Regions from separate parts of the Homo sapiens genome. Here region 1 is linked to region 2. Evidence: fine-mapped expression QTL. A gene starts in region 2. The other region holds a variant in brackets. All regions are shown on one strand. Distances are from middle to middle. Region 1 holds the start of LOC105369725 (a long non-coding RNA gene). Region 2 holds the start of BICD1 (BICD cargo adaptor 1).

The links.
Region 1: its variant is fine-mapped to the expression of BICD1 in whole blood (INTERVAL, PIP above 0.99).

The regions. Positions count from the first base shown.
Region 1 is chr12:31,945,688-31,961,268 of GRCh38, forward strand. It overlaps LOC105369725 (a long non-coding RNA gene), which reads right to left and starts at 13,617. Exons shown (of 2, transcript XR_931503.2): 1 at 13,441-13,617; 2 at 12,806-13,117. RESF1 (retroelement silencing factor 1) reads left to right here and starts at 13,728. Exons shown (of 6, transcript NM_018169.4): 1 at 13,728-13,804; 2 at 15,090-15,184. It also overlaps the pseudogene RPL12P32 and the pseudogene LOC100132543. RefSeq lists silencers at 3,195-3,395, 13,699-14,038 and enhancers at 6,621-7,122, 11,350-11,849, 11,853-12,646. The variant T/C (reference allele first, on the strand shown) is at 10,104.
Region 2 is chr12:32,099,395-32,114,975 of GRCh38, forward strand. It overlaps BICD1 (BICD cargo adaptor 1), which reads left to right and starts at 7,453. Exons shown (of 10, transcript NM_001714.4): 1 at 7,453-8,150. The coding sequence starts at 7,938. BICD1-AS1 (BICD1 antisense RNA 1) reads right to left here and starts at 8,068. Exons shown (of 3, transcript NR_185992.1): 1 at 8,000-8,068; 2 at 5,282-5,379; 3 at 4,723-4,896. RefSeq lists a silencer at 6,976-7,455 and enhancers at 7,816-7,895, 8,423-9,060.

The DNA.
Region 1 (15,581 bases), 150 kb before region 2:
TCTAGACCCTATTTTCCTGCCTCAAATCTAGAGGCAGAAAAGTGGTGTTTTCATTCAAGAATGAGGGCTGAGCTGGGCACAGTGGCTTTTGCCTGTAGTCCCAGCTATGCAGGAGGCTGAGATGGAAGGTTTGCTGAGCCCAGGAGTTCAAGACCAGCCTGGGCAACATAGCAAGGCTCCATCTCTAAAAAGTAAAAGAACAATAAGGTCTGAATGGCATGACAATGAGGTTAAGTGAAGCTACTAAGATTAAGTCTTCAGTGGCTTTAGTTAACTTTGCAGCTGTAAGTACCCAAAGAGGGTAGGCAACTGCTACGGGGCCAAATGAGAAGATGTAACAAGAAACGGGTCTTTGATGTCCATCATGCTGTTAACACCTCTAAAATTTCTCCTGATTTTTTATACACAAATAGAAAGTAGAGTTTATAACAATTAGGGAATTCAAGGGTAGTGAGTTTATTTGGGACAAGAACTCAGGTGTGTCAACTAGTTTTGATTATAGAAAGGGGGAGCCAGTATAGACAAATTCAGAATCCAGTGTCTACAATATCACGAGTCCAAGAAATTCTCTAAATTATGTTCTGGTAATTGGCCAGGTAAAATCATAAAGAGCTTCCTTTCTCTGAAGGAAAAGAGATTTTCCCTTTTGCATGATGATGTCATGATCAAGATAATTCACTTTAGTCTGATAAAACTGGATTTATGGCCGGGCACAGTGGCTCACACCTGTAATCCCAGCACCTCGGGAGGTCGAGGTGGGTAGATCACGAGGTCAGGAGTTCAAGACCAGCCTGGCCAAGACGGTGAAACCCCATCTCTACTAAAAATACAAAAATTAGCCAGGCGCAGTCACAGGCGACTATAATCCCAGCTACTTGGGAGGCTGAGGCAGGAGAATCACTTGAGCCCGGGAAGCGGAGGTTGCAGTGAGCCAAGATCATGCCACTGCACTCCAGCCTGGGCGACAGAGTGAGAATCCATCTCAAAAACAAAACAAAACAAAACTGGATTTATCCTTTGAGAAGTTATGTCCCTAATTCTTCAAGATTTGGCCGGGCACCGTGGCTCACACCTGTAATCCCTGCACTTTGGGTGGCTGAGGCAGGACAGCTTGAGCCCAGGAGTTTGAGACCAGATTGGGCAACATGGTGTAATCCTGTCTCTTAAAAATATATATATAAAATAAAAATTCTTCAAGATCTTCTATCTGGAGAGCATAAGAGAAGATCCATTAATTATATAAGAGTTTCATCATCTCTGAATTCTGTAAGGAGATAAACTCATGGATAGAGATTACAGTATCCATCCTATAAATTCTTTTTTCTTTTTTTGAGATGGAGTCTTGCTCTGTCGCCCAGGCTGGAGTGCAGTGGCATGATCTTGGCTCACTGCAACCTCCGCCTCCCGGGTTCAAGCGATTCTTCTGCCTCAGCCTCCTGAGTAGCTGAGACTACAGGCATGTGCCACCACGCCCTGCTAATTTTTGTATTTTTAATAGAGATGGGGTTTCACCATATTGGCCAGGCTAGTCTTGAACTCCTGACCCCGTGATCCACCCATTTTGGCCTCCCAAAGTGCTGGGATTACAGGCGTGAGCCACTGCACCAGGCCTCCATCCTATAAATTCTTAAAATAATCCTAAATCCTTCAATGAATTTTTCTCTTTACGTAGGAGGATTTAGAAGGTTCTTAACTAGATTATGCAAACCTGAAATTGACCAAGGTTTAAAACAATAAGCTTAGCTAAGTTGGTTGTCATCATCACTTAGGTGTAAGGCATCACGAAGGGATACTGTCCAGTGAAAGGGGGGTGTTTAGGAAGGAGTAATGGAGGAAAGCGAAGAGGACCTAAGGAAGACACAGCAGGAAGGGAATGAGTCAAAGAAAGGTGTTATGGGAAGTCAGGGACCCCGAACAGAGGGACCTGCTGGAGCCGTGGCAGAGGAACATAAATTGTGAAGATTTCATCTTAATATGGACATTTATCAGTTCTGAAATAATACTTTTATAATTTCTTATGCCTGTCTTTACTTTAATCTCTTAATCCTGTTATCTTCGTAAGCTGAGGATATACGTCACCTGAGGACCACTGTGACAATTGTGTTAACTGTAGAAATTGATTGTAAAACGTGTTTGAACAATATGAAATCAGTGCACCTTGAAAAAGAACAGAATAATAGCGATTTTTATGGAACAAGGGAAGACAACCATAAAGTCTGACTGCCTGCGGGGTTGGGCAAAAAGAGTCATATTTTTCTTGTTGCAGAGGGCCTATAAACGGACATGCAAGTAGGAAACATATCGCTAAATTCTTTTCCTAACAAGGAATATTAATATTAATACCCTGGGAAAAGAATGCATCCCTGGGGGGAGGTCTATGAACGGCCACTCTGGGAATGTCTGTCTTGTGCAGTTGAGATAAGGACTGAGATAAGCCCTCCTCTCCTGCAGAATCCTTAGGCTTACTAGGGTTGGGAAAACTCAGCGCTAGTAAATTTGTGGTCAGACTGGTTCTTTGCTCTCAAACCCTATTTTCTGTTGTTTAAGATGTTTCATCACTCTCAGCTTTCACCTCAGAGGAGGCCAAGGTGCAACTTTCTTTAGTCATCCCAAATCCAGGTTCATCTGACACCAGCCGCCTCCACCATGCCACCGAAGTTCAACCCTAATGAGATCAAAGTCGTATACCTGAGGTGCACCGGAGGTGAAGTCAGTGCCACTTCTGCACTGGCCCCCAAGATCGGCCCCCTGGTCTGTCTCCAAAAAAGGTTGGTGATGACATTGCCAAGGAAACAGGTGACTAGAAGGGCCTGAGGATTACAGTCAACCTGACCATTCAGAACAGACAGACCCAGATTGAGGTGGTGGCTTCTGCCTCTGCCCTGATCATCAAAGCCCTCAAGGAAGCACCAAGAGACAGAAATTAATAGAAAAACATTAAACACAGTAGGAATATAACTTTTGATGAGATCGTCAACATTGCTTGACAGATGCGGCACTGATCCTTAGCCAGAGAACTCTCTGGAACCATTAAAGAGATCCTGGGGACTGCCCAGTCTGTGGGCTGTAATGTTGATGGCCACTACCCTCATGACATCATAGATGACATCAACAGTGGTGCTGTGGAATGCCCAGCCAGTTAAGCACAAAGGAAAATATTTCAATAAAGAATCATTTGACAACTAGAAAAAAAAAAAAAAGATGTTTATCAAGACAATATGTGCACCGCTGAACATAGGCTCTTATCAGTGGTTCTACTTTTGCCCTTTGCCCTGTGATCGTTGTTGGACCCTAATCAGTGGTTCTGCTTTTGCCCTTTGCCCTGTTCCCTCAGAAGCATGTGATCTTTGTTAGACTCTTATCAGCGGTTCTGCTTTTTGCTCTTTGAAACATGTGATCTTTGTACCTACTCTCTGTTCTTACACCCTCTCCCCTTTTGAAACCCTTAATAAAAACTTGCTGGTCTGAGACTCAGGCAGGCATCACAGTCCTACTGATATGTGATGTCACCCCTGGCAGCCCAGCTATAAAATTCCTCTCTTTGTACTGTCTCTCTTTATTTCTCAGCCAGCCAACACTTATGCAAAATAGAAAGAACCTACATTGAAATATTGGGGGTGGGCTCCCCCAATAGAAAGGCAGGAGGAAGTTGAGGGCCAGGGGTCTAGGATGTAAGTTAATCCCGGGTTAGGCAAGAGATGGAGAAGAGATTTAAACGTTGGCTTTTAGGTCCTCTATATTTTTATTGGCCTTTTCTAATAAGTCCTTAATAGAAGCTATTTTAGAATTTTCCTTTGAGAGGACTCTTCCTGGTCATTTAAAAACGCTAATTATTGAATATCTGGGAACATTTAACCATTGACTGTAAGGTGCCAAAAACAGATTATCTTATTCACATCCAAAGTTCACCAGAACAGCCACTAAAGTTCTAGAATGTCCTTAGTAAGATTCTGCCATAGGATCCAATATTTAATTCTATTTACCGCACAACATTGAGCTCATATTCAAATAAAAAGAACAAAGAAGAAATAAATACACAGGCCCCAAAATTCTCTTGGAACTATGAGCCCAGGTCATCTGTGAGAACCTTGAGTAGTAAAAACAAATCATATCCAGAGGCTTATACCAAAGACAATAAAGGTAACGAAGGCTTAAGTGGGGCTGGGCATAGTGGCCCACACCTGTAATCCCAGCACTTTGGGAGGGCCGATCACCTGAGGCCAGGAGTTCAAGACCAGCCTGACCAATATGGTGAGACCCTGTCTCTACTAAAAATGCAACAATTAGCCAGGCGTGGTTGCCCGGACCTGTAGTCCCAGCTACTCAGGAGGCTGAGGCAGGAGAATGGCTTGAACCCGGGAGGTGGAGGCTGCAGTGAGCTGAGACTGTGCCAGTGCACTCCAGCCTGGGCAACAGAGTCAGACTCAGTCTCAAAAAAAAAAAAAAAGGCTTAAGTAGGCACAGTAGCTCACACCTGTAATCATGGCACTTTTAGAGGCTGAGGTGGGTGGATCACTTAAGCCCAGAAGTTCAAGAACAATCTGGGCAACATGGTAAAACCACATCTCTACAAAAAAATACAAAAATTAGCCAGGCGTGCTAGCACACACCTGTGGTCCCAGCTACCCTGGAGGGTGAGGTGGGATGATCTCTTGGGCCTGGGAGGTTGAGGCGGCAGTGAGCCGTAATTTTACCACTGCACTCCAGCCTGGCAACAGAGTGAGAACTCATCTCAATAAAAAAGAAAAAAAAAAGGCTGAGGTGATGATTCAAAGTTGTGAGACGGTTGGAAGCAGGGCTCATTCAGCTGAGCAGTCCCTGTGACTTGTAAAGGAGAAATAAAAACATCTTAGGACCCCCAAACTTGTTATGCAGCAGTGCTGGGTCATGCAGCACTGCTATCCTTTTCCCAAATAGACAGCTATTACTTTACAACCTGGTGTCAAAGCATCATACATTACCCAGACCCTCACAGAAAGGCAGAAGGTCTGATACCATCTCCACATGATGGCCCTCATAAATTTTTCCCAACTAAACTCTTTGCTGGCCTCAAAACCTTTCAAGATGTACATCCTCCCATAAAACAAGAACCATGTCCATTTTAACTTTAGGTCTACCATCTAAGTCTAGCTCCTAAAACTAAAGTTTGCTAGAGTCACACTGATAATGTCAATTACAAGCTGATCTTCCCAGGAGCAGAACAAATCATTCCTCCACCTACCCTGAGATGTTTGCATAATTGATTCTTCCTCTACTCCCTTTTTCTCTGAATTCTTTATAATATAATCACCTTATCTGTATAAAATGTAGATTTACTGAGCTCTAATTAATTAATAGTTCCACAAAAGTATAACCATTTGCCTCACCACCCTACCCCCTCCTTCCCACATGCCTTCTCCCCTTTAAAGAAATGTATAAATACTGTATTAGTCCGTTTTCACACTGCTATAAAGAACTGCCTGAGACTGGGTAATTTACAAAGAGATTGAATTGACTCATAGTTCCACATGGCTGGGGAGGCCTCAGGAAACTTACAATCACGACAGAAGAAGGGGAAGCAAGCTACCTTCTTCAAAAGGTGGCAGGAAGAAGTGCTGAGCAAAGGGGGAAGAGTCCCTTATAAAACCATCGCATCTCAAGATAACTCACTCAATATCACGAGAACAGCATGGGGGAAACCACCCCCATAATCCAATTACCTCCACCTGGTCTCTCTCTTGACACATGGGGATTATAGGGATTATAATTCAAGATGAGATTTGGGTGGGGAAACAGAGCCTAACCACATTTTACATATTTGATTTTTTAAAATATTTGATAACTTTCATTTTGAATTAATTTCCTTTGTAATCTCACATATTTTATTTTATGCATTCAAAAGATTATTCTGGCCAGGCATGGTGGCTCATGCCTGTAATCCCAGCACTTTAGGAGACCGAGACGGGTGGATCACTTGAGGTCAGGAGTTTCTGACCAGCCTGGCCAACATGGTGAAACCCTGTCTGTAATTAGCCGGGCTTGGTGGCCCATGCCTATAATCCCAACTACTCAGGGAGGCTGAGGCATGAGAATCTCTTGAACCTGGAAGGCAGGGGTTGTCGCTGAGATCGTGCCACTGCATTCCAGCCTGGGTGACAGAGCAAGAATCCGTCTTAAAAAAAAAAAAAAAAAAAAAAAAAGATTCTAAGAAGGTGTCCATGGGCTCTACCAAACTACCAAAGAGGTTTATGGTCAAAAAAACAGAGAAGAGTTCCTGCCCTCAGGAGTTATTTCTTTTTTTTTTTTTGCATGGTTGAAATTAAGTTACTGCCATTTCTACATTCCAATCCAAGCAAATGTAAGAAGAGTTTCACGGTAAGCCATTCCCTTAGGCAGAAGTTGCATATAACATTTCTGCTTATATGTCATTATGAGAACTGAAACTTGACAACATCTAGCTGCAAGAGAGACTTGGGGGAATATAATCTCTACTTACATTCCAAGTGACTACATACAAACTGACTTTGTACCCAGCTAACCATTACTAACAAGAAGGGGAAAGAAACAAAAAAGAAGGGGAGGCCTGGCGTGGTGGCTCATGCCTGTAATCCCAGAACTTTGGGAGGCTGAGGCAAGCAGATCACTTGAGGTCAGGAATTCTAGACCAGCCTGGACAACATGGTGAAACCCCATCTCTACTAAAAATACAAAATTGGCCAGGTGTAGTGGTGCGGTCCTGTAATCCCTGCTACTTGGGAGGCTGAGGCAGGACAATCGCTTAAAGCAGGGAGGCGGAGGTTGTAGTGAGCCAAGATCATGCCACTGCATTCCAGCCTAGATGACAGAGTGAGGGTCTATCTCAAAAAAAAAGGAAGAACGGGAAACAGATTATAGGGAGCAATCAAGAAAAGAAAAAGAACTAATGACCTCATTTACAACTTAAATGAATAGGCATTTTTTTTTGCAAACCAAAATAACTTTTACTATAGATATGTTAATGATGTCATTAAAACATTTTCTAAAACATATTTTATAAGTTTAAGAGTTAACAAGCCTTGGCCAGTTTCGGTGGCTCACGCCTGTAATCCCAGCACTGTGGGAGGCCAAGGCAGGTGGATCACAAGGTCAGCAGTTCAAGACAAGCCTGGCCAAGATGGTGAAACCCCATCTCTACTAAAAATACAAAAAATTCACCGGGCCTGGTGGCGGGTGCCTGTAATCCCAGCTACTCGGGAGGCTGAGGCAGAGAATTGCTTAAACCTGGGAGATGGAGGTTGCAGTGAGCCGAGATTTTGCCACTGCACTCCAGCCTGGGCGACAGAGCAAGACTCCGTCTCAAAAAAAAAAAGACTTAACAAGCCTTAAGGCTAAGTACTATGCTCATGAAAGACTCAGATAGCATCTAAGAGAGCCTTTGTTTTTGAATGCTGGGAAACATAGGGAGAGGATCCCGTAATTTATGAAAGGGAGCATAGTATGGAGCAATCTAATCTATGAGGGGAATCTTTCCCAAGCCTGACCAGTTGACAAGGCTTTCTGGCACACTAGGTTGTAAATCTCTTAGAGAGAAGACAGTGTAAAGCTTGGCTCTTGAGTAAACAAACTTTCAGGTCCATGAGATTGCATTCTCCCTTTGCAAGTTTCTTACTGGTGACCATTTAAGACTACTCTATTGATGAATATCACTTGTACTTTAAGACTGTGCAAAGATCAAACACTTTTGGAAAAATCAGACAACCTTTACTTACCTAGCAGAGAGAGGATAAAATCAGCACAAGTACAGACAAGGATACATGGCAGAGAGATCAGCTACTTTATCCCAAATGCTTCCCAGACATTAAATCCTAACGGACACTAAGCCCTCCTTAGGCTGTATAGGAGTGGGGTCCCTATCAGAATTTCCGGCAACAAAAGTCCCTCTCCTTGGGTTTGTTTTTACTTGCTGACCTGCGTGGCTAGGTGCTAGAAAATCCCTTATCTGAGCCAAGTGTGTCCAGCTATGTTCCAGGAACTGCTCCTAGTGAGGTATATGTACTAATTCATGTAACTATCTCAAAAATTAAATAAGGTAAGTATTATTGTTATCCCCATTTTTCAGAAGAGCGAAAAAACAAAAAAATGAAGTGATTTTCCCACAAAGTTCTATCACTAGGGAGCTGCAAAACAAGATTCAAACCTTGGGGCATACTTAAGAGCACTGAACAGGTTTGAGCCAAAGAGCCATTAGAGGGCCAGAGCCGGGTCCTGAACCAACAATAGACGGAGATGTGCTAGACACACTGGAGGTGCTGGGGTATAAGGGACCATTGCTAGAGGAGCAAGCCCTTATGAAGGCAGCAGAGTGGACTATATGTAGGAGCATATACGGTATAGGATTATATATATAGGCTTTTATACAGGAAGAAGGTGGTATATACTGTAAAGGAATAGATATATAAACTATATAAATTCCTATACAGGATATGGTTAGGCTTTCAAATAAAATCATTATGCAACTTGGAAGAAAGTATGACTTCTGCTGGAAGAGATGATCTAGAGAGCTTCCAGCTTGAGGTAAATGATTTTTTTAAAAGAAATGGCATGTCCATATTCTGTACTCATATCAGGAGATACTAAAGATCATTTTAAAAAAGGAGGACTGGCTGGGTACAATGGCTCACACCTGTTATCCCAGCACTTTGGGAGACCAAGGTGGACAGATTGCTTGAGTCCCAGGAGTTCAAGGCCAGCCTGGGCAACATGGTGAACCCCATCTCTACAAAAAATACAAAAATCAGCTGGGTGTAGTGGTGCATGCATGTTGTTCCAACTACTTGGGGGCCTGAGGTGGAAGAATTGCTTAAGTCAAGGAGGTCAAGCCCACAGTGAGCTGAGATCGCGCCACTGTAAATAAAAAAATATAAAAAGGACTGTTTGAAACTCCTATTATTTTTAAGTACAGAACTTGAAGCTTCACAGATATTACAGAACAAGAAACATTAAAATTCTCAATTAGATAAAAATAATGAAATTTATCAGGAAGTTCAAGTTCTGTGTGATAACCTTGGTGTACCCAAGTAAACAACTTCTGACATTCTGGTTATGCTAAACCAAGTGGAATCAAAGGTGAAAGACAGGCAGGACGCAGTGGCTCATGCCTATAATCCCAGCACTTTGTGAGGCAGAGATGGGAGGATCTCTTGAGCCCAGGAGTTGGAGACCAATTTGGGTGACATAGCAAGATCCCATCTTATTTCAAATTTTTAAAAATTGTTAATTTTTTTATTAAAATTAAAGAAAACCACTCTGCTGAAAATTAATTTAAATTTGAAACAGGCAGAACAACTGGAAAGAGTCAATGATGCTCTTTCCTGTGAACATGAGTGCCTCTAGCGAATGTTATGAAACAATTAGATGCGGCAATACAGTCCGTTGCACGGTGTGATACAGCCAAGGTAAGAAAAGATGACACAGCAAGAATTTACCAGCCTCAGTGTTATGCTTTGTCACCCAAGACAGCGATTATAATGGTGCATCTACTTGCTGCTCATGATAATCTATCCAAGATCATTAGGACAAGCAGTGGAGCCAGCCAGATGATGGCATGTGCCATTAATAAGGTGCTGATGGGAAGGGTGCCTGACAGGGGAGGCTGGCCAAATGAAATTGAACCACCACCCTCTGAAATGCCCCCTTGGCAAAAGAGACAAGAAGGCAGTGGCGGAAGGGGTGGTTGGGGTGGTGGTTGTGGAGGTAGAGGTGGTAGTAGAAGAGGCTGTGGGGGTGGAGGTGGAAGAGTTGGCTGGGGTAGAGGAGGATGGGAAAGTGGTGGGGGAGAGGGAGGAGGTGGGATGGAGGTGGTAAAGGAGGTTTCTAAGGCAGAGGAGATGATGGTGGGAGGGGAGATTATGGTGGAAAAGATTATGTAGATCCATATGGAGGAGGTGGTGATGGTGGTGGATATAGGAGATACTGAAGACTACAAAAATTAAAAACCAAAACCAACAAACCTCAAGCGCAAAGGAATAGTCTGCCCTCTTATGTCACAAGCACTAACTAACCACCTCTGCCCTTTCTCATCCCTTAATCATTCAGACAAGATTTCCTTGTTTACTTCCTCCTATAAAAACCCTAAGTCTATTTCA[T/C]TTTCTTTGAAAAGATTCCTCTGCATTAATGGATGTTGTCCTTACTACAATAGCATGAAAAAAAAAAAAAGTCTCCTTAATGCAGCTTAGCAATTTTCCAGGCTTGATATCAGTGACTCCATCTTGGGCTATTGACTCCATGCTGAGCTGCTGCTAAACTTTGAGGCCCACGAAGAAACTGTGAAAAATATTTCCTTCACAAACAACTGTTATAAATAAAGTTTTGGTGTTGCAAAAGAAATAGCACTCGAATATAAATTTTCTTTTTAATTCTCAGCAAGGCAATGTACTTCTTTTTTTTTTTTTTTTGAGACAGAGTCTTGCTCTGTCGCCCAGGCTGGAGTGCGTGTCGCAATCTCGGCTCACTGCAAGCTCCGCCTCCCGGGTTCATGCCATTCTCCTGCCTCAGCCTCCGGAGTAGCTGGGACTACAGGCACCTGCCACCACGCCCAGCTAATTTTTTGTATTTTTTAGTGTTAGCCATGATGGTCTTGATCTCCTGACCTCATGATCCGCCTGCCTCGGCCTCCCAAAGTACTGGGATTACAGGCGTGAGCCACTGCGCCCGGCGGCAATGTACTTCTATAGACGGGTGCGCCCTCACAGATGGAGCAATGGTGAGCTCACACCTGGGCAAGGGAGGGGAAGGGGTTCTTATTCCTGATGCACGTGGCCTCTGCTGCTGTGTCGTTCCCCTGTTGGCTAGGGTTAGACCGCACAGGCTAAACTAATTCTGATTGGCTAATTTAAAGAGAGTGATGGGGTGAGCGGTTTGGCAGGAAAAATGGTTAAGGCGGGGCAGGAAATCGGAATGAGTCAGGGTGGAGCAGGTGATTGAAATGAGTCAGGGTGGAGCAGGTGATGGAAAAAGGTTGCTTTACGAGGAAGTTAAGTTTAAAAGTAAAAGGCAAAGATTGACCATACTGACATATTGATTCTTTGAAGAGAAATTTAGAATTCATATCTAACACAACCGTTTTTGCAACAACACACAACCCAAGAAAGCTGGTCTCAATATTATTATTATTATTATTATTATTTTCCGAGACAGGCTCTTACTCTGTCACCCAGGCCGGAGTTCAGTGGCTCAATCTTGGCTCACTGCAACCTCTGCCTCCCAAGCTCAAGTGATCCCCCCATCTCAGCCTCCCAAGTAGCTGGGACTACAGGCGCATGCCACCACTCCTGGCTAATTTTTTTTGTTTTTTGTATATTTTTTGTAGAGATTGGGTTCACCATGTTGGCAAGGCTGCTCTCTCAAACTCCTGGCCTCAAGTGATCCTCCCCAAAGTGCTGGGATTACAAGCATAAGCCACCACGCCTGATCCCCAATCTTTTTTTGTTTGTTTTGTTTCATGAGACAGACTCTTTCTGTGGCCCACGCTGGAGTGCAGTGGCGTGATCTCGGCTCACTGCAACCTCTGCTTCCTGGGTTTAAGCAATTCTCCCGCCTCAGCCTCCCGAGTAGCTGAGAATTACAGGTGCCCACAACCACGCCTGGCTAATTTTTATATTTTTAGTAGAAACAGGGTTTCACCATGTTGGTCACGTTGGTCTCAAACTCCTGATTTCAAGTGATTCACCCACCTCAGCCTCCCAAACTGTCAGGCCTCTGAGCCCAAGCTAAGCCATCATATCCCCTGTGACCTGCACGTATACATCCAGATGGCCTGAAGCAACTGAAGATCCACAAAAGAAGCGAAAATAGCCTTAACTGATGACATTCCACCATTGTGATTTGTTTCTGCCCCATCCTAACAGATCAATGTATTTTGTAATCTCCCCCACCCTTAAGAAGGTTCTTTGTAATTCTCCCCACCCTTAAGAAGGTTCTTTGTAATCTCCCCCACCCTTAAGAAGGTTCTTTGTAATTCTCCCCACCCTTGAGAATGTACTTTGTGAGATCCACCCCCTGCCCGCAAAACATTGTTCCGCGGAGCCTCTCCCAAAACCTATAAGAATTAAAGATAATCCCACCACCCTTTGCTGACTCTCTTTTCGGACTCAGCCCGCCTGCACCCAGGTGAAATAAACAGTCTTGTTGCTCACGCAAAGCTTGTTTGGTGGTCTCTTCACACGGATGCGCGTGACACAAAGTGCTGGGGTTACAGGCCTGAGCCACCACACCTGGCCACCCCCAATCTTTAAGAATATTCTGGCCGGGCGCGGTGGCTCATGCCTGTAATCCCAGCACTTTGGGAGGCTAAGGCGGGCGGATCAAGAGGTCAGGAGATCGAGACCATCCTGGCTAACATGGTGAAACCCCGTCTCTACTAAAATACAAAAAATTAGCCGGGCATGGTGGCGGGCGCCTGTAGTCCCAGCTACTTGGGAGGCTGAGGCAGCAGAATGGCGTGAACCTGGGAGGCGGAGCTTGCAGTGAGCCGAGATCGTGCCACTGCACTCCAGCCTGGGCGACAGAGCGTGACTCCGTCCCCCCCCCAAAAAAGAAAGAATATTCTGTATGTAGTTTTTTTGTTTTGTTTCTGACAGACGCAAACGCACTCTTCTAGTAATGACTAAAGACTTCTTCGTTTAATTCACCAATGAACTAATCTGACAATTTATGTAACAAATAAATTCCTATAAACATAAGCTCCCTTGCCCCTCTCCAGTGGCACAATCTCTGATTTGCCATCCTGGTTGCAACCTTCATTACTAAGTAAACGCTTACGTAAACCTTAATAATGAGATTCGGGCAATATGATTAAATATTGGTTTATTTGAGTGCAAAGTTTGAGGATGGCGACCCGGTAGGACACAGACTCCAAAAGATGGGGGTCAGTGCTTCGAAAGGGAGAAGTTTGAGGGTCGTTTACACAGGCAGGGTCTGGGAAGCTTAACAGGATGTCAACATTTTCCATAGAAGGTTAACGCATAGCAATTTGATTGGTTCAAGGCAGTGTTTCTTTTTGGGAAGGGTCTATTTAACATTCCACATTAAGGATGTAATAGTCAAGCGGTCATTTATCTTATTCAATGCGTATTTTATCTCAGATGCCATCTGGTCTGAGCTGGGAACAAGAAAATAAGGGAGTTAATCTATAACAAAAGGTCGGCAATTAAGAGGTCGTGCTTCGTGATCTGGTCTCCAAAGTCAACTTTCCTCAGGGACTTTCAGAATCCCCAAATAGACTATCCACTTTCTTTCACACTTATTTGCCTCTAACTTGTTGATTTCTTTTTTTTTTTTCTGTTTTTTAAGGGTTAACAATCTCTTGGGTGCACTCTGACTTCCATGCGCTTTATAGAAAAAATTGGTCCTGAGGCCAGCAGCAACAGTCGGTCTCAGGAACTTGTTAGAAATGCACATTTTTCAGCCCCACCCCAAACCTACTGAATCAGCAGTTTTGCTGGTGGTTCTCAATCTCTCTTTAACGTGCCCTCTGGGTGCTGCGGATGCACGCTGAAGGTAGAAGATCGCTGCAGGAGATTTCCGCGTCGGGCAGATGAAAGCGCTCTGCAAGCCCGGGTGTTATCTGCGGGCCGGGTCCGCGGCTTCTCTGGTGGCACTAGGACCGCGGCGGCGCGGCCCTCGCAGCCACCGCCTCGGGCGTGAGGCGGAGCGTAGCTGTTCCTGGATCCTGGGCCTGGCTCCTCGACCCGCCCCTGGAGGCGGACCCCACTTGACTTAAACTCTGGGGCCCGGGAGGCCGCCGGTTTTCTCCCCGCTTGCCGGGGTGGTCCTCTTCCCTTTGTCGGTAAGTGTGAGACGAGCACCCCGAGGTCCCTCCGCCTTCCGGGGTCCGGGCGGGGCGGGGGCCGGGAGCCGGGAGCCAGAGGCACTCGCGGTCCGGGCCTGCGCGCGGCGCAGAGCGCTTTTGTTCTGCGGCAAAGACGCAGTCGCGGGCGGCCCCGGAACCCGGGCCTCGGGCCCCGCCGGCTCGCGCGTCCCGCCGTCCGCCCACCGGAGCTGGGCCGGGCCGCCGCGCTTGCTTCTGCCCGCCGCACCGGGGCCGGCCCTGGGCCTCCGCGGATGCCGAGCCTTGCACCGGAGGGCGGGCCTCGCTGGCTGTTTTCCCTCATTGCCTGGCTCTGCGCGGTAGAGGTCGCGAGTGGCGAAGGCTAGGACGCATTTTGTCGAACTGCGAGGCGCGGCTGGTGAGGCGGGTGGGTATGAGAGCTGCTTATGTTTTTAAGGCTTTCCTGTCGCTGGAGTGAAAAAGAAAAATCTTTTTTTTTTTTTGCTATTTCCCGAGGGTTCTCCTCCTCCCCGGCCCTCTTAAGCCGAAGCCTCCTGGAACAGAATTGCTGTACTGGCATCTATCTCCAAGTGGTCCGCGAACGCTTCTGCGCCGGCGATGGTTTCTGTTCCTCAGCAATAGTTCCTTGAGGCATTTTTAAATGCACAAACGCATACCCATCTTAGGTGTTCTCGAGGGACACGGATTCCCTAAGCAAACGTCCTTAGGGTCCTGAGTTCAGCAGCAAACTTTCGGGGAATCATTTCCGTGAAAACAATTTATTTGTAGTACATCGAGTGCATACTGTCTTAACATAAGGATGTGTATGAGCTTGAGGCGCATTTTCATTTAGTGGCGGGCGGGTGCATTTCAGTAGGCGGGCCGCAGAGCTTGTTTGGGGATTGCATTTTTCTGCTAAATGTGTTAGCTTTAATCATGTTTCAGTCACTGTTAATGTGCATGCATGTTAAGGTTTTAGGTTTTTTCCCCTGTGCAGTCGGATTTTTTTCTGTTTAATATTAATCCAATAAAGACAAGTGCAGAGATAAAGTATTATTGTTTTGCAGTGATACTACAATAGCGGACCTAGAGGAGCGCACATAAATTCTAACTTAAGTGAATGGTATTTTCAGGCCAGACCTAGTTTCTATTTCTGTTACTTAGGACACTTAATAAGAATTCAGTAAACTTAGCATGCTTTCAGTGCAGCCATAAAAGAAAACAGTTTTGCACAGCAGTGTCATATCTAGTAAACACATTAGCATGTGCTCTTTTATTATAAAATGTTTCTTGCTGTCCCTAGGACCAAAGAAGTAAACACTGTGTGGAGAGGGACTGACGTGTTTGGAGGGAAATGGGAATGTACACGATAATTAAAGAGTAAAGTTGTGCTCAACGGTAAGTGTATCACCTCTAAGAAACCCGCCCTGATTTAACCAGGCGGTTATTCACACTCAACTATGGAGTAATTCACCTATTACCGAATAAAATTACTAGCTCAGTGAATCAACATCGGTTTTAAATTAAACTGTGGGTCACAATGGAATTGACAGCAAAGCTTGAGAAGAAATGTTGTTGGCATAGTACTGAAAAATCAGTTGTTAATCTTAGCAAAATAAGGAAAGAGGTCTTTGGTAAGGGAATTGTGGTGGAAGTTACCTGGGCAGAGGTCTGCTTCTGTCTGTGCTGTGTTTATTTGATTGTTTTTATTATATTTTATTACTGTTGGTGGCACATAGGGGAATGTGGCGCAGAGCACCACTCTGGGAGGATGCTTCCCGTGCAGCCAAAGTGA
Region 2 (15,581 bases):
GAAATATCAAGATTAGGGAAAGCTATAGAGACAAAAAATAGTTTAGTAGTTCCTTAGGACTGGGGTAATGGGGTGGAGGATGGGGATGGGATAGGAGGATGACAGCTAAAGGGTACTGTGGGGAAAAGCAAGAGAGATCAGATTGTTACTGTGTCTGTGTAGAAAGAAGTAGACATAGGAGACTCCATTTTGTTATGTACTAAGAAAAATTCTTCTGCCTTGAGATTCTGTTAATCTATGACCTTACCCCCAACCCCGTGCTCTCTGAAACATGTGCTGTGTCAACTCAGAGTTGAATGGATTAAGGGCGGTGCAAGATGTGCTTTGTTAAATAGATGCTTGAGGGCAGCATGCTCCTTAAGAGTCATCACCACTCCCTAATCTCAAGTACCCAGGGACACAAAAACTGCGGAAGGCCGCAGGGACCTCTGTCTAGGAAAGCCAGGTATTGTCCAAGGTTTCTCCCCATGTGATAGTCTGAAATATGGCCTCGTGGGAAGGGAAAGACCTGACCGTCCCCCAGCCCGACACCCGTAAAGGGTCTGTGCTGAGGAGGATTAGTAAAAGAGGAAGGAATGCCTCTTGCAGTTGAGACAAGAGGAAGGCATCTGTCTCCTGCCTGTCCCTGGGCAATGGAATGTCTCGGTATAAAACCCGATTGTATGCTCCATCTACTGAGATAGGGAAAAACCGCCTTAGGGCTGGAGGTGGGACCTGCGGGCAGCAATACTGCTTTGTAAAGCATTGAGATGTTTATGTGTATGCATATCTAAAAGCAGAGCACTTAATCCTTTACATTGTCTATGATGCAAAGACCTTTGTTCACGTGTTTGTCTGCTGACCCTCTCCCCACAATTGTCTTGTGACCCTGACACATCCCCCTCTTTGAGAAACACCCACAGATGATCAATAAATACTAAGGGAACTCAGAGGCTGGCGGGATCCTCCAAATGCTGAACGCTGGTTCCCCGGGTCCCCTTATTTCTTTCTCTGTACTTTGTCTCTGTGTCTTTTTCTTTTCCAAATCTCTCGTCCCACCTTACGAGAAACACCCACAGGTGTGTAGGGGCAACCCACCCCTACAGGGTACAGGTGATTAAAGTGGACAAGGGCAGCCACTGAGAGAGCTGGTATCCAAGCAGCTTGGAGATGAAGTCCTGGCCCCAGAAGGCACTGGTGTGGAAGCCACACATCTCCCTTGAAAGTGCATCTGGAGGTCTCACTATGTGAAGTGCTCTTGAAGGGAAGATTTCCCACCGGCCATTCACAGCAGAGCACCCCAGTGCCCCACAGATACACCCTCTCATTGTGTGTTATCCCTGCCATCATTTCTGGGGACATGGAGTTGTCTGATTAGGCTGTCTCCACATCTTAAATTTTTTGAGATGGAGTCTCGCTCTGTTGCCCAGGCTGGAGTGCAGTGCCACGATCTTGGCTCACTGCAACCACCACCTCCCAGGTTCAAGCAATTCTCCTGCCTCAGCCTCCCGAGTAGCTGGGACTACAGGTGTGCGTCATCACACCTGGCTAATTTTTGTATTTTTAGTAGAGACAGGGTTTCGCCGTGTTGGCCAAGCTCATCTCAAACTCTTGACCTCAGATGATCTGCCTGCCTTGGCCTCCCAAAGTTCTGGAATTGCAGGCATGAGCCACTGCGCCCAGCACACATCTTAAATTTCTATTCATGCTGTAATCCACTACAACCTGGTATCTGCCTTCTCTGTTCCACACAAATGAATCTTATCAAGAGCACCCACCTCCATGTTGCCAAATCCAGTGACATTTTGTGTCCTTATAGTACTTGGCTGTGACCTCTTGTTGGCACTGACTTGGTCCTTATTCCCTCGCTCCTCATACACACTTCTCTTTTGTTACCTTTCAAATGTTTCTCTCCTGATTTTCCCCCCACCCAGTCCCTCTCAACTCTCTTTGCTGGCTTTTCCTTTCCAACTCAACCTTTAATAGGGATACTTCAGGGCTAGATCCTAGACCCCTTTCTCTTCTTTATTTACATCTTTCCCTAGATAATCCCATCTGTTTTCCATGGGTTTCAATGCCCTCTAACGCTAGTGATTTTCAAAGCAAAGTCATCATACCTCCTAAGAAGTCTCTTCTTAATTTTTGTCTTACATCAAATTATTGACTTAATATTTCTATTCAAATATCTCAAAAGTGGCTGGGCACGGTGGCTCATGCTTGTAATCCCAGCACTTTGGGAGGCCAAGGCAGGCGGATCACCTGAGGTCAGGAGTTCAAGACCAGCCTGGCCAACATGGCAAAACCACGTCTCTATTAAGAATACAAAAATTAGCTGGGTGTGGTGGCACATGCCTGTAGTCCCAGCTACTTGGGAGGCTGAGGCAGGAGAATCGCTTGAACCCGGGAGGCAAAGGCTGTAGTGAGCCGAGATCACGCCACTGCACTCCAGCCTGGGCAACAGAGGGAGACTCCATCTCAAAAAAACAAAACAAAAACCCCACAAATGTTTCAAAAGTGTCTTAAGCCTAATATGTTCAAAATAGAACTCTTGATTTCTTAAAACTGTTCCATCTAACTAAATGGCGGCCCGTCTTCCCAAGTCAGAAAATTAGAATTTATTTATGATTCCTTTTTTCTCCCTATCCCACATTCAGTCTTCAAAAAGGTCTTAAGAATTCTACTCTCCCATTCCACTCCTTCCTCAATATAAATCCATGTACTTCTTTTCCCAGCTGCTATCATCTCAGTCTAGGCCATGATTTTCTTTTTCCTGGACAACTGCAACAACTTCCTAACTAGGGACCCTACTTCTATCTTTTGATATCTTCCAACTTTTTTGTGTGTGCAGTAGAAAAATTTTAATTAAAAAAATTTTTTTTGTAGGGACGGGGTTTCACCATGTTGTCCAGGTTGGTCTTGAACTCCTGGAATCAAGCAATCAGCCTGCCTCAGCCTCCCACAGTGCTCTGGGATTACAGGCGTGAGCCACTGCATCCAGCTGACATTCTTAAAATACAAATAGAACTATTTCATTTCCTGACTAAAGAATCATCAAAGGCCTCCCCTGAGAATAAAACCCAAATTCTTCATTCTGACTTGCAAGGCAAGTATAATTCCCGCCTATCTCTCTGATGTTGCCTGACTTCTTGATATAGTCTTAGGCCATTTCCCTTGAGCTTCTTAATCCTCAGCCTCTTTCATTTTTTTTTTTTTTTATTTGTTTTTGAGACAGGGTCTTGCTCTGTCACCCAGGCTGGAGTGCAGTGGCACGATCATGGCTCACTGTAGCCTTCACTGCCAGGCTCATGGGATCGTCCCACCTCAGCCTCCCAAGTAGCTGGGACTACAGGTATGCACCACCATGCTCGTTCGATTAAAATTTTTTTTTTTTTTAGTAGAAATGGGGTCTTGGTATGTTGCCCAGGCTGGTCTCGAACTCCTGAGCTCACATAATCCTCCTACCTTGGCCTCCCAGAGTGCTGAGATTACAGGCATGAGCCACTGCACCCAGCAGCCTCTCAGATTTTTATTCTTTGCACTCAACAAGCTCTTTTCTGCCTTTGGCTTTTACACATTATTTCCTTTCCCTGAAAAGCTTCTCCCCCACATTTTGTATATCCGACTCCTTTTTGTTCCTCATAGATAATAAAATGAATATCACTTCTTCAGAGAGATCTCTACTGATTATCTTTTTTTCTTCTTTCTACCTAAATTTTATCCTTGTTTTTCTTTTAAAACTTTTAAAAAGCACATATAAAATGCTTATGTGTGTGATACTATTCTATTCACAACAATCTCATAATTAGATTATATTATTATCTCCTTTTTAGATATGACACAACTGAGAAACACACAGCTAGTAAGTGGCAAAGTTGGATATGACCCAAGTAGACTAGCTTGTGCTTTTTTTTTTTGCTTTTTTTCTTTTCTTTTTTTTGAGACGGAGTCTCACTCTGTCACTTGGGCTAGAGTGCAGTGGCGGATCTCTGCTCACTCCAACCTCCAACTCCCGAATTCAAGTGATTCTCCTGCCTCAGCCTCCCGAGTAGCTGGGATTACAGGCGCCCACCACCACACCCAGCTAATTTTTGTATTTTTAGTAGAGATGGGGTTTCACCATGTTGGTCGGGCTGGTCTCGAACTCCTGACCTCAGATGATCCGCCCACCTCGGCCTCCCAAAGTACTGGGACTACAGGTGTAAGCCACCGAGCCTGGCCTTTTTTTCTTTTCTTTTGGTGAGTCTTGCTTTGTCACCAGGCTAGAGCACAGTGGCACAATCAGTACATTGCAGCCTTAATCTCTTGGGTTCAAGCCATCATACTGCCTCAGCCTCCTAAGTATTGGGGACCACAGGCATGTATTACCATGCCCAGCTAGTATTTTTTAATTTTTTGTAGCCATGAGGTCTCGCTATGTTGCCCAGGCTGGTCTTGAACTGCTGGCCTCAAGTGACCCTTCTGCCTCAGCCTCCCAAAGTGCTAGGATTACCAGTATGAGCCACCACACCCAGCCTAGGAATGCTTTAAGAAATTATTTTCTATATACCTGTCATTGATATATATGCAATACATATGGCATATACGAAAAAAGAGGGAACTGTAACTATGCAGTACTGGAACAGCATGGTGTATAGGAAAATAAATTTGGCTGGGCATGGTGGCTCACATCTGTAATCCCAGAACTTTGGGAGGCCAGGGTGGGAGGATCACTTGATCCCAGGAGTTTGAGACCAGCCTGGGCAACATAGACAGACCCTGTCTCTACAAAAATTTAAAAAATTAGCTGAGTGTGGTGGTATTCATCTGTAGTTCCAGCTACTCAGGAGGCTGAGGTGGGAGGATCGCTTGAGTCCAGGAGGTTGAGGCTGCAGGGAGTCATGATCATGCCACTCCACTCCAGCCTAAGTGATGGAGACCCTGTCTCAGAAAAAAAGAGAAAAAAAACAAGAAAATAAGTTTATCTTCTTTACGTTAAATACCAACATTTAAGGATCAAAGTTCAACTAAGCAACATCTTAAAGTGTCAGAGTGTGCAAGACATGCCTGAAATCAGACAAAAGTGACAAGTGACAAAAGTGTATCAATCAGAAAAACGGGGCAGGATAGAGCATAGGGGCTGGACCACAATGGAAATTTAGCAAAAAGGAAAGTCACAGAGGCAAACTCTGTTCTTAGTTTGATCCAAAGGAGAGGGAGGCACAGGCAATCTAGTGCGAGTCTTATGATCCCTTTGGAAGGCCTATGCTTACAGTTTGTAGAGTGAGGAACAGCCAGAGGCTTCCTGGGAAGGCAGGTTAGCTACCTGCAATTGCAGGTTCCATCTCTTTTCAGCAGTTCATCATCATTCATCAACGTGTCAGAGGTCAGATGCCACGGGAGCACACAGGAGGGGCTTCCCACCTGGAGTGCGAGATAAGGAAAGATGGGTCGGATGTTGTAGTCATTATCATCCGCTTCTCTACAAGGCTGGAATTTATGGTGGCTGCACATTTGGAATGTTTTCTCCTTTTATTTATTTATTTTTAGATCAGACAATCACAAGAGAATATTCTTTTGTTTTATTTTTAGATCAGACAATCACATGAGAATATTCTGTTGTGATCGCTGGCGTTTAGAAGGAAACTTGTCTGGTTTGTGAAGCAATGGAAAACACATCCAGACAGCCTGCTAGTGGAAACTTTGGAAGGGCACTGTCATATGCTTTTTCTCCCACGCCATCAACAAGTGTCCTTTTTTTTTTTTTTTTTTGAGATGGAGTCTCTGTTGCCTAGGCTGGAGTATAGTGGTGCCATCTGTACCCTCCACCTCCTGGATTCAAGCAATTCTCCTGCCTCAGCCTCCCAAGTAGCTGGGATCACAGGCGTGCACCACCATACCTGGCTAATTTTTGTATTTTTAGTAGAGATGGGATTTCACCATGTGGGCCAGGCTAGTCTTGAACTCCGGACCTCAAATGATCCATCCACTTCTGCCTCCCAAAGTGCTGGGATTATAGGCGTGAGCCACTGTGCCCGGTCAACAATCATCTTTTTTTTTTTTTTTTTTTTTTTTACCAGGTACACAATGATGGGAGAGTTGAGTCCTGCTTTCTAACTTAGAAAACGCATGTGTGTTCATCACCTGGTCACTGAGAAACAGCTCTGGAATAGGTGCCATGCAGAAGAAGAGAGGGAACTGGAAAGACCCACTGATCTGTGGGTCTCACAGCCTCCCGTTACACAGAAATTGCTTCTTTTCTCTCATGTTGCGTTCTTCCTCTTGATTCTCGACCCTTCTCCACTCTTTCATTTACTCCACTCTTACTTTGCTTTCACCTCCTTTTGTAACCGTTCATCATCACTCTTCATATGGATTAATGTGATTATCTTAAAAGCATGTAATATGTAGTTGCTGGGTTTGTATGAGTAATGAGTGAACCTGAAGCCAACATAATGATCCCGTTTAGTGCTCCCGAGTTAAGATTCCAGAGTTGCCTGACTTTGGACAAATCACATCTCCCTTTGCCTTTCACCCCCTGTAAACTGAGGATAATGGCTCTTACCTCAAAGCATTGTTAGGATTGGAGAGAACGCATGTTACATACTTAGAAGAATGCTTGGTATGGGTCTCAAGAACTCTTAGCTCTTATTGTTTAAAAAATGCTTATTACAGGGCATCGTTGGTATCTTATATAGGGAATTTCAAGCAGTTTTCCTTTATTGAAGACACAGAGTAAGGTGCTTTGATGGAAACTATTGGGGCAAGATATACAGTACCTAGCTAGAGGTTTCCTGGGTGCATGTATTGTGGAGATATTTTTTTTCTGAGTGGATAGCGCTCTTGTGATACGCTGGGTGAGGGCGAGCAATATTTAGCGGACTGTCCTGTGAGGATAGTAAGGTTATCTGGTGAGAGTGTTAGGTGGCCCAGGCCAGACTTGGGAGAGGCAGGGAGAGAGGGGGACGACGGAGGAGGGCGCCTTGGGGTGCGTCTTGAAAGCTTTGGGAAACCCAGCGGTCTTTTGGGGGCAGGTGGCCCAAAAAGCCTTCTGCGCGCCCAGGGGACGAGGAGGATGCGCGGACCGCGACCGCGATAGTTTTGTTTGCTTTTCTCGGGAGAAAGCGTTCCAGGCAGTTTCCTGAGCTTCGGCCCTCGACGTAGCAAAAGAGCCCGGGCGCCCACGCCGCTCTCGGGGTCTTCTACTGCCACCGGGACAAAGCCCTGGGAGGAGCTCCCGCCCCCGCGAGCCGGACAGGGCGGAGGCTCCCCCGCCGCGCGCGCCCCACCGCTTCCCAGTCCCAGACCCGTCGCCTGCGCCTCCTCCTGGCGCGCCTCACGGTGCAGCGGGCGGCGGCCCGCGCGCCCGGCGGGAGGCGCCTCGGGATGTTTCCGTCTGGTCCTTCCCTCCGCCCCCCGCGCTGACTCCATCCGCTCCCCGCCCCCTGCTCGGAGCCGCCGCCACGCGGGAAGGGAGGGAGCCGGCCCCGAGACTGCATCATTCCGCACCGGCTGCTGCAGGGCCAGAGGGAGCAGGTGGAGCGAGAGAGCGAGCCGCGAGCCGGAGCGCGCCAGACCCAGGGCGAGACTGCAGTGACGCGGCCCGGGAGACATGGCGGACGGGCGTCTCTGAATAAGCAGAATCCGGAGCCCCTCGCTACCCGCGGCCGCCGCAGCCCGGGCCATGCCGCACGGCTGCTGACCGCACGCAGGGGCCGGCCCCGAGGACACATGCGGCGGCCTTTGCCGCCTCGCCCCTGACCCTCTGCCCTGTTCTCCATGTTGCATTTCTCGTCAGTTTCTCGGGCGGTGTAGCTGCCGCTGCCACCAGAGCCGGCGGGGCATCGCGCTGCTCATTCATCCGGCCGCACTTTCTTTTCCGTTTCCACCCATCCCTTCCCATTTCCTTCTCCCTTTCCCCGCCAGCTTCGCATCCATCTCCCCCACCCCGTAACCCCCTCCTGCCTCCATCCACCGGGGCTATGGCCGCAGAAGAGGTATTGCAGACGGTGGACCATTATAAGACTGAGATAGAGAGGCTAACCAAGGAGCTCACGGAGACCACCCACGAGAAGATCCAGGCTGCCGAGTACGGGCTGGTGGTGCTGGAGGAGAAGCTGACCCTCAAACAGCAGTATGATGAACTGGAGGCTGAGTACGACAGCCTCAAACAGGAGCTGGAGCAGCTCAAAGAGGTGAGTTGCCTGTCACCTCTCCCTTTCCTGGCCCTCACTCCCCCCACCCGCAAGGCCCACTCATCATGATCAAGAAGTCATAAAGGAGGTGATTGAAAGGACTGTTTTTTCTTCTAGGGCCCTTTGTTGGTAAGAGAAGATTGAAAGAGTCCATTGTTTCCTCCCCCAAGAGAAAAATTGCCTAAGAAATGAATATATAAGCTGGAATTTGGGAGGCAATGGCTGTTTGGCCTGCGGGGGAGGGAGATTAGTAAGAGTCATCAAGTCTCAGCACTCTAAGACGACATTCAAGTGGGTTGGAATGTATAAATCAAACTTCTCAAAACCGCTGTTATCTCAAACCCAGGTTTCAGCGACAATTTCGTAGTCCACAAAAGTGATGAGGTTTGTGCCTGAGGACCCACAATTTCAGGATTTAGACTGTGTGGCACCTCAGCTTTCCTCTGGATGTAACCACTCCTTGGTGAGAGAGGGAACTCCTCACCAATCCCATTTGACAAAGGCTAGGCAATCTTCATTCTGCTTGGCTTTAGTCATTCTTGTCATTGGGCTGCAGAAGAAAAACAACTTTGCTGGGTGATCCCACTGCCTTGATTTCACCTCGGAGCGAGGCTGGGCCATGTCCAAGTCTTATGAGGTCACCCTGACTAGAAAAAATTGAACTCACCTACAAATAGTCTGAAAGAGTGGTGTATATCAAATACGTGGGTAGTGTTGCATTTCAAATGAGGCTCTTCTGGTTGAAATGATATATTTATAAAACCAGAATATCAAAAATGGGTGATGTATAATGTCTCTTTAGTTTTTTGGTATTTGGCCTCTTTTAAAGCCTGTCGGATGTATGGGAGAAAACAATGAACGTGCTTTGATTTCCTATCAGTCACTCTTAAGAACATACATATTGTTTAAGTAACTCGGTCTTTTTTATCTGATTCTTGAGGCACTATGGGTAGCAAATAACCACTTACAAATTTAAATGTAATATACACTCCTTTTCTGTGTGTCAAGTCCTTATTTTTAGGTGCATATTGACATTTAAATGTTAATTATTGTTTGGCATATAATATCAAAAATCTATTATTTATTTTATGCTGTTACAGTTAAAAGATGTGATTTATGACATACTGAATCAACTTGCCTTCCAATTTAGTGTGTAATATGGTAAGCATTTATACTTTTAGATATGTCTTATTTTTATTTGGATGCCTGTCTACCAAAAAATAAATGTACTACCTATGATTAAAAATCCCAACTAGGAATCTAATTTTTGTGTGTCAGGCTGTAAATTTCTGGTTCCTATTTTACTTACCATGTACCTGTCTGGTCTTAACAACAGCTGGACTTGTTTATATTTTCCAACTTAGATTAGGCTGACATGTTTAAATGCAGTGATGCTAAACCTTGTGAAGTGAGGAAGCAGGATGATGACTGTCATTCTCAGAGATGTTTTGATATTGTCTATACCTATCAACACTGCTTTGCCAAGATAGGGAAGTGCAAACCAGAAAGTGGTAAGCCATCACCTTCTTGATAAAGGAGATGGACTTAATTTAATGAAATGTACCTCTTACTGACTTTGCTGCTTGATTTAAACAATCCTTCTAGGGATATTTCTGTCATTGCACTTACCTTGCATAGCAAACCTTAATGCAATTGTGTTTTGCCTTTGCTACACCATGAGCTTTGCATCCCAAGTCTTTAACACAAAAGCTAGCACACAGTGGGCATGAAATATTTTATGAAAGAATCAGTTTGTACTAGAAGAAGGCACACTTTTATCAAGGGTTCACTAGTCAATATTGATTAGTGTTAGATAAATACTAAGAAAATTAGGATGTATAGGAAGTGACAGATGTTAATAAAACTACCTGTATTAGTTTCACCAGCAGTAATGAGAAAAATGTGAAAAAAACGTTTTGTAGGAATAATGTAACTGTGGTTTCTTAATACAGAATAATGCAAATACCAACTAAAATTTTTTCTATAAATATTTTAATATATATTTTGTTCTATATAGCAGGAGGTTAATAAAAATTTACCAGCATTATTTTTACTAAACGATTCTTGTTCATATATTTATTTTCAGTTGCATTTAGCATAAGTGAAATTCGAGATTCCTAAAAAACTGGTTTATACAGTTATATAAAAATGTATTTTAGGTAATAAAATTATTATAGTTGATTATTTGATAGTGAGGCCTATTATTTTTATTCTTTAAACATAGAATATACTTTAGTTGGAAATATAACTTAAATGAGTTAAATTGATTTCAAGTAACATTTCTTGTATGAAAAGTAAATCCAAAATAATTGTGCAAACTGAGGTGTTCCAACACCTCAGTTTTGAAAAATATTTTGTGAGTGTTTTGATTTTTCAAAAGAAAGTTTTGCTCATCAGGTATGTATAGTAAATGATGTTGCATTATATCTATAAAGCCAAGCATAAAATAAATCTTTGCTTATTTCTAGGATTTTTGAACAAATATGATTTATTTAAAAATAATTGAACCAGTTTATGGGAATGTCAACAGAAAACTACTGTATTAAGTCCAAATTGGACATTAGTAATTTGCAGTATAGCAACATGGCTCAGTCTTTGCAGATCATTTTGTTTTCCAGAGTCAGTACCCACCAATGTTGCTACCTTCCTTCCCAGGCTAGGTACTGCTGTGACAATAATGCAAGTCGGCAGTGTTGCCTAAAGATGTGCAAAATCAAGAAGATGAAATTCATTAAATTTTTTTCCTAGTTATTTCTTCCCTCAACTCAATTGTTTTTTGACCTGGCCTGATGTTGTTTAGTGCTCTGCATGGACTACTGTAATTCAGCTCACAGAAGAACACACTTGAAAGAATAGTACTAAGGATTTGAAAAAAGGATGACTTCTGACATCATCAAAGTGTTCTCCTTTTCATGATTCTTTGGGCAGCTGGACAGAGCAGTATGTCCACTAGAATACTTGAGTCTGGTTTTGTGATTTCACAAGTAACACTTGCTCTTCAGTGACCTGAGTGAGGGTCACCCATGCCCAGTTATGTTCAGGGCCTGGCTGATTATATGTTTGGGATGTACGTAAATCAGCACTGTGCGCCTGTCACCCAGGCCAGAATAGTGTTTGAAGAAGAGTCATAGCTCCAAAATAACCTGAAAACTAAAAATATACATATATAAAAATACCTTGGATCTAAACTTAAGAGTTTTTTTTACACCGCATGTTCTCACTCATAGATGGGAATTGAACAATGAGAACACATGGACACAGGAAGGGGAACATCACACTCTGGGGACTGTTGTGGGGTGGGGGGAGGGGGGATGGATAGCATTAGGAGATATACCTAATGCTAAATGACGAGTTAATGGGTGCAGCACACCAGCATGGCACATGTATACATATGTAACTAATCTGCACGTTGTGCACATGTACCCTAAAACTTAAAGTATAATAATAAAAAAAAAGAGTTTTTTTTTAACTTAAAAATGGTTGAAATTTAAAATGTTGTAAAGTTGAAAAAGAGCCCCTTAGAAAGGAATGATTCAGCATTACTGATGGCATTTTAAAAAGGAAATGTATCTGTGAGACAGCTTTAGAAAAGTTTTGCAGCTTGGATACCGTAAACTATGCACTAATGAGCTTCAACCCATTTTCTTGCTTATTTTGTCAACCCTGACACCAAGGATAGTTACCAGCTGCTGAAGAAGCACTTTCTGGACATTGGGCAGCTTTTTCTTTTGGAGCCAACTCTATTCTTTTTCAGGGTTATAGTTAAATCATTCAACACAAAAATATGTACTTACACAGTTTTAGAGCTTGTCACATTGGTGACCTGATGAATGCCACTTAAATTACCTAGATTCATCTTTAAGCAGAATTGTTTTCCCTTCAGATGCTTAGAAAGATTGTTAGTTTCTTTTATATCTTTAAGTTCTAAATCACAAAATCATATGGCAAGAAAAACCCCAGATTTCTTTTCCAATCTATGAATAAACATAAAGAGACAGTTAATACTTAATTGATCTATCTGAACTATGATTTTTAACTTCTCTCATTGTTTTTATTTTTTTATTTTATTTTATTTTATTTTGAGATGGAGTCTCGCACTTTCACCCAGCCTGGAGTGCGGTGGTGTGATCTCGGCTCACTGCAAGCTCCACCTCCCGGGTTCACGCCATTCTCCTGCCTCAGCCTCCGGAGTAGCTGAGACTACACGCATTCACCACCACACCTGGCTAATTTTTCGTATTTTTAGTAGAGATGGGCTTTCACCTTGTTAGCCAGGATGGTCTCGATGTTTTTAAAGAAAAAATATTTACATTTATTATCAAATTAATCTTAAAATCTAAAATACATTAAGATATGCTTTTGGAAACTGTTTACAAACAACCTCAACAAATAAACATCATCGCTTTCAATCACATTTCTTTTTTTCTGGACCCAGTTGCTCTAACTTGCACTATCCCTTTTTTTTTTTTTTTTTTTTTTGAGATGGAGTTTCACTCTTGTTGCCCAGGCTGGAGTGCAATGGTGTGATCTCGGCTCACCGCAAATTCTGCCTCTTGGGTTCAAGTGATTCTTCTGCTTCAGCCTCCCGAGTAGCTAGGATTACAGGCATGCGCCACCACACCTGGCCAGTTTTGTATTTTTAGTAGAGATAGCGTTTCTTCATGTTGGTGAGGTTGGTCTTGAACTCCCGACCTCAGGTGATCCGCCTGCCTCAGCCTCCCAAAGTGCTGGGATTACAGGCGTGAGCCCCCACGCCCAGCCCCTTCTTTTTATTTGAAATCAAGATTTCGTCTCTGGCGAAGTTATTTCTCAGATATAACTTAGCAAGAATTTATCATCTTTTATCACATTCCCCATGTTTATGTGAACATGTATGACAGCGATGGTTTGAAGGTTTCTTCAGAACTTTCTGCTTGCAAATATTTTGCCCTATCATCCCCTTAAATATAGTTGTACTCATGGATATTGCTTTCCAAATTTGAAAATACGGTAATTAATTACTTGCATGTTGAAATATACATAAAGGACTTGCCCACACATAAGATTCCACCTGTAATTATGGCTTTGAGGAGAGGAGGGCATGAAGGGCTGCATAGTCTTAGTATTAAATAATTCATTACGCTAAAGGAGAATGCACGTAAAGTCAAGTGGCAGGAGATGCAATTGTGAAAGGGCCATGGCCACATTTTGTCTTGGGGATGTGGAGCCATTGAAAATAAATGAAACAGTCACTGTGTTTAATCTCACCAGTCTTCAAAACAATTCAGAGGGCTTACTGCTCATTTTTACTGATAAGAAGATAATAAAAATAATAAAGCATTGACTTAGGTACAAGGCTCCATTTAGAACTAGGTTCTTTACAAGCCTCACCTCTAATTCATGCAGCAATCCTTACTCAAGGTAGGTGTTTCTTGCATTATACAGAAGAGGAAACTGGGTCTTAGAGAGGTTTAGGTCTCTTCCCAGGGCCACAAAACTAAACGATGAAACTTGGAAGAAGCCCACTTTTTTTTCACTGCATCATACTACCTTGAATATGAAATATCTCTGCCAAGTCTACAAGTGCAGTATAGAAGGTTATGGTGATGGTCATAGTGGGTGGATTGAGGCTGTGTGGTGGGACAGACAGTGGCAGTAGGGATCGTGAGGAGGGGGCACGTCTAAGAGCTATTTGGGAGGTAGGGTGGAACAGGCATTGGATGTTACTATATGTGGAAAGTGAGGAAGACAGTGGAGCTGAGAATCTTCTCAGGCTGGATAGGAGGTGGTTCTATTTACAAAGGAAGGTATTATGGGGCAGAGCAGTTTTAGAGGGTGAAATTGATGCTCAAGTTACATGAGTTTCTGTTGTTTTTGACACAGGGTTTCTCTCTGTCACCCAGGCTGGAGTGCAGTGGTGCTGTTACAGCTCACCGCAACCTTAACTAACCATCCTGGCTCAAGTGATCCTCCCATCTCAGCCTCCCAAGGAGCTGGGAATACAGACCCATGCCACCATGCCTGGCTAATTTTTTTTTGAGACTGAGTCTCCCTCTGTTTCCCCAGCTGGAGTGCAGTGGCATGATCTCAGCCCACTGCAACCTTTGCCTCCTGGGTTCAAGTGATTCTCCTGCCTCAGCCTCCCAAGTAACTGGGACTACAGGAGCATACCACCATGCTTGGGTAATTTTTTTTTTTTTTTTTGAGCTGGAATCTCACTCTATCACCCAGGCTGGAGTGCAGTGGTCTGATCTCAGCTCACTGCAACCTCCACCTCCCAGGTTCAAGCGATTCTCCTGCCTCAGCCTCCTGAATAGGTGGGACTACAGGTGCCTGCCACCATGCCTGAATAATTTTTTTTTTTCCAAGACAGAATCTCGCTCTGTCGCCTAGGCTGGAGTGCAGTGGCGCAATCTCGGCTTACTGCAACCTCTGCCTCCCGGGTTCAAGTGATTCTCCTGCGTCAGCCACCTGTAGATGGGATTATAGGCGCGCGCCACCACGCCTGGCTAGTTTTTGTATTTTTTTTAGTAGAGACAGGGTTTCACCATGTTGGCCAGAGTGGTCTTGATCTTCTGACCTCGTGATCCACCCACCTTGGCCTCCGAAAGTGCTGGGATTATAGGCATGAGCCACCGCGCCCAGCCTAATTTTTGTACTTTTAGTAGAGAGAAGATTTCAAACATGTTGCCCAGGCTGGTCTGAAATTCCTGAGCTCGAGCGATCTGCCTGCCTTGCCCTCGTAAAGTGTGGAGATTACAGGCATGAGCCATTGTGCCCAGCCACATAAGTCCTTTTAATTCATGTTTTCTTTGCTGGGGAAGCGTACATTGCATGATGGATTCAGATCCTCAACTTTCTTTTTTTTCTTTTTTTGAGATGGGGTCTCATTTTGTCACCTAGGCTGGAGTACAGTGGTGTGATCGTGGCTTACTGCAGCCTTGACCTCCTGGGCTCAAGCAATCCTCATGCCTCAGCCCCCAAGTAGCTGGGACTACAGGTGCACACCGCCATGCCTGACTAATTTTTGTATTTTTTTTGTAGACACAGGGTTTTGCCATGTAAGCCAGGTTGGTCTAGAACTCTTGAGCTAAGGACAGTCCGCCTGTTTTGGCCTCCCAAAGTGCTAGGATTACAGGCTAACTTTCAATTTAATAAAAAAAATTAATTTGTGCAATTGGTTGTTATTTTATAGAAGCCTAATTTCTAGAATATGGGATATAAACAATTTAATAATGTTTTCACCAGTTAGTTTGATTGCTTTCTAAATTAGGAAAAATGAAAACAAATAAACGATGGGCAAAAAAGCTGACTGGGGACAGTAAGGTCTAAGAAGGCAGCCTAAGTGGAAAATTAGCCCTTACTCACCATTTAGGGTTATGGGGGCTGGGAGCAACAGTCCTCACTGCTCACTGACTAATCTTTATCAATCTTATTTAATCTTTATTGAAG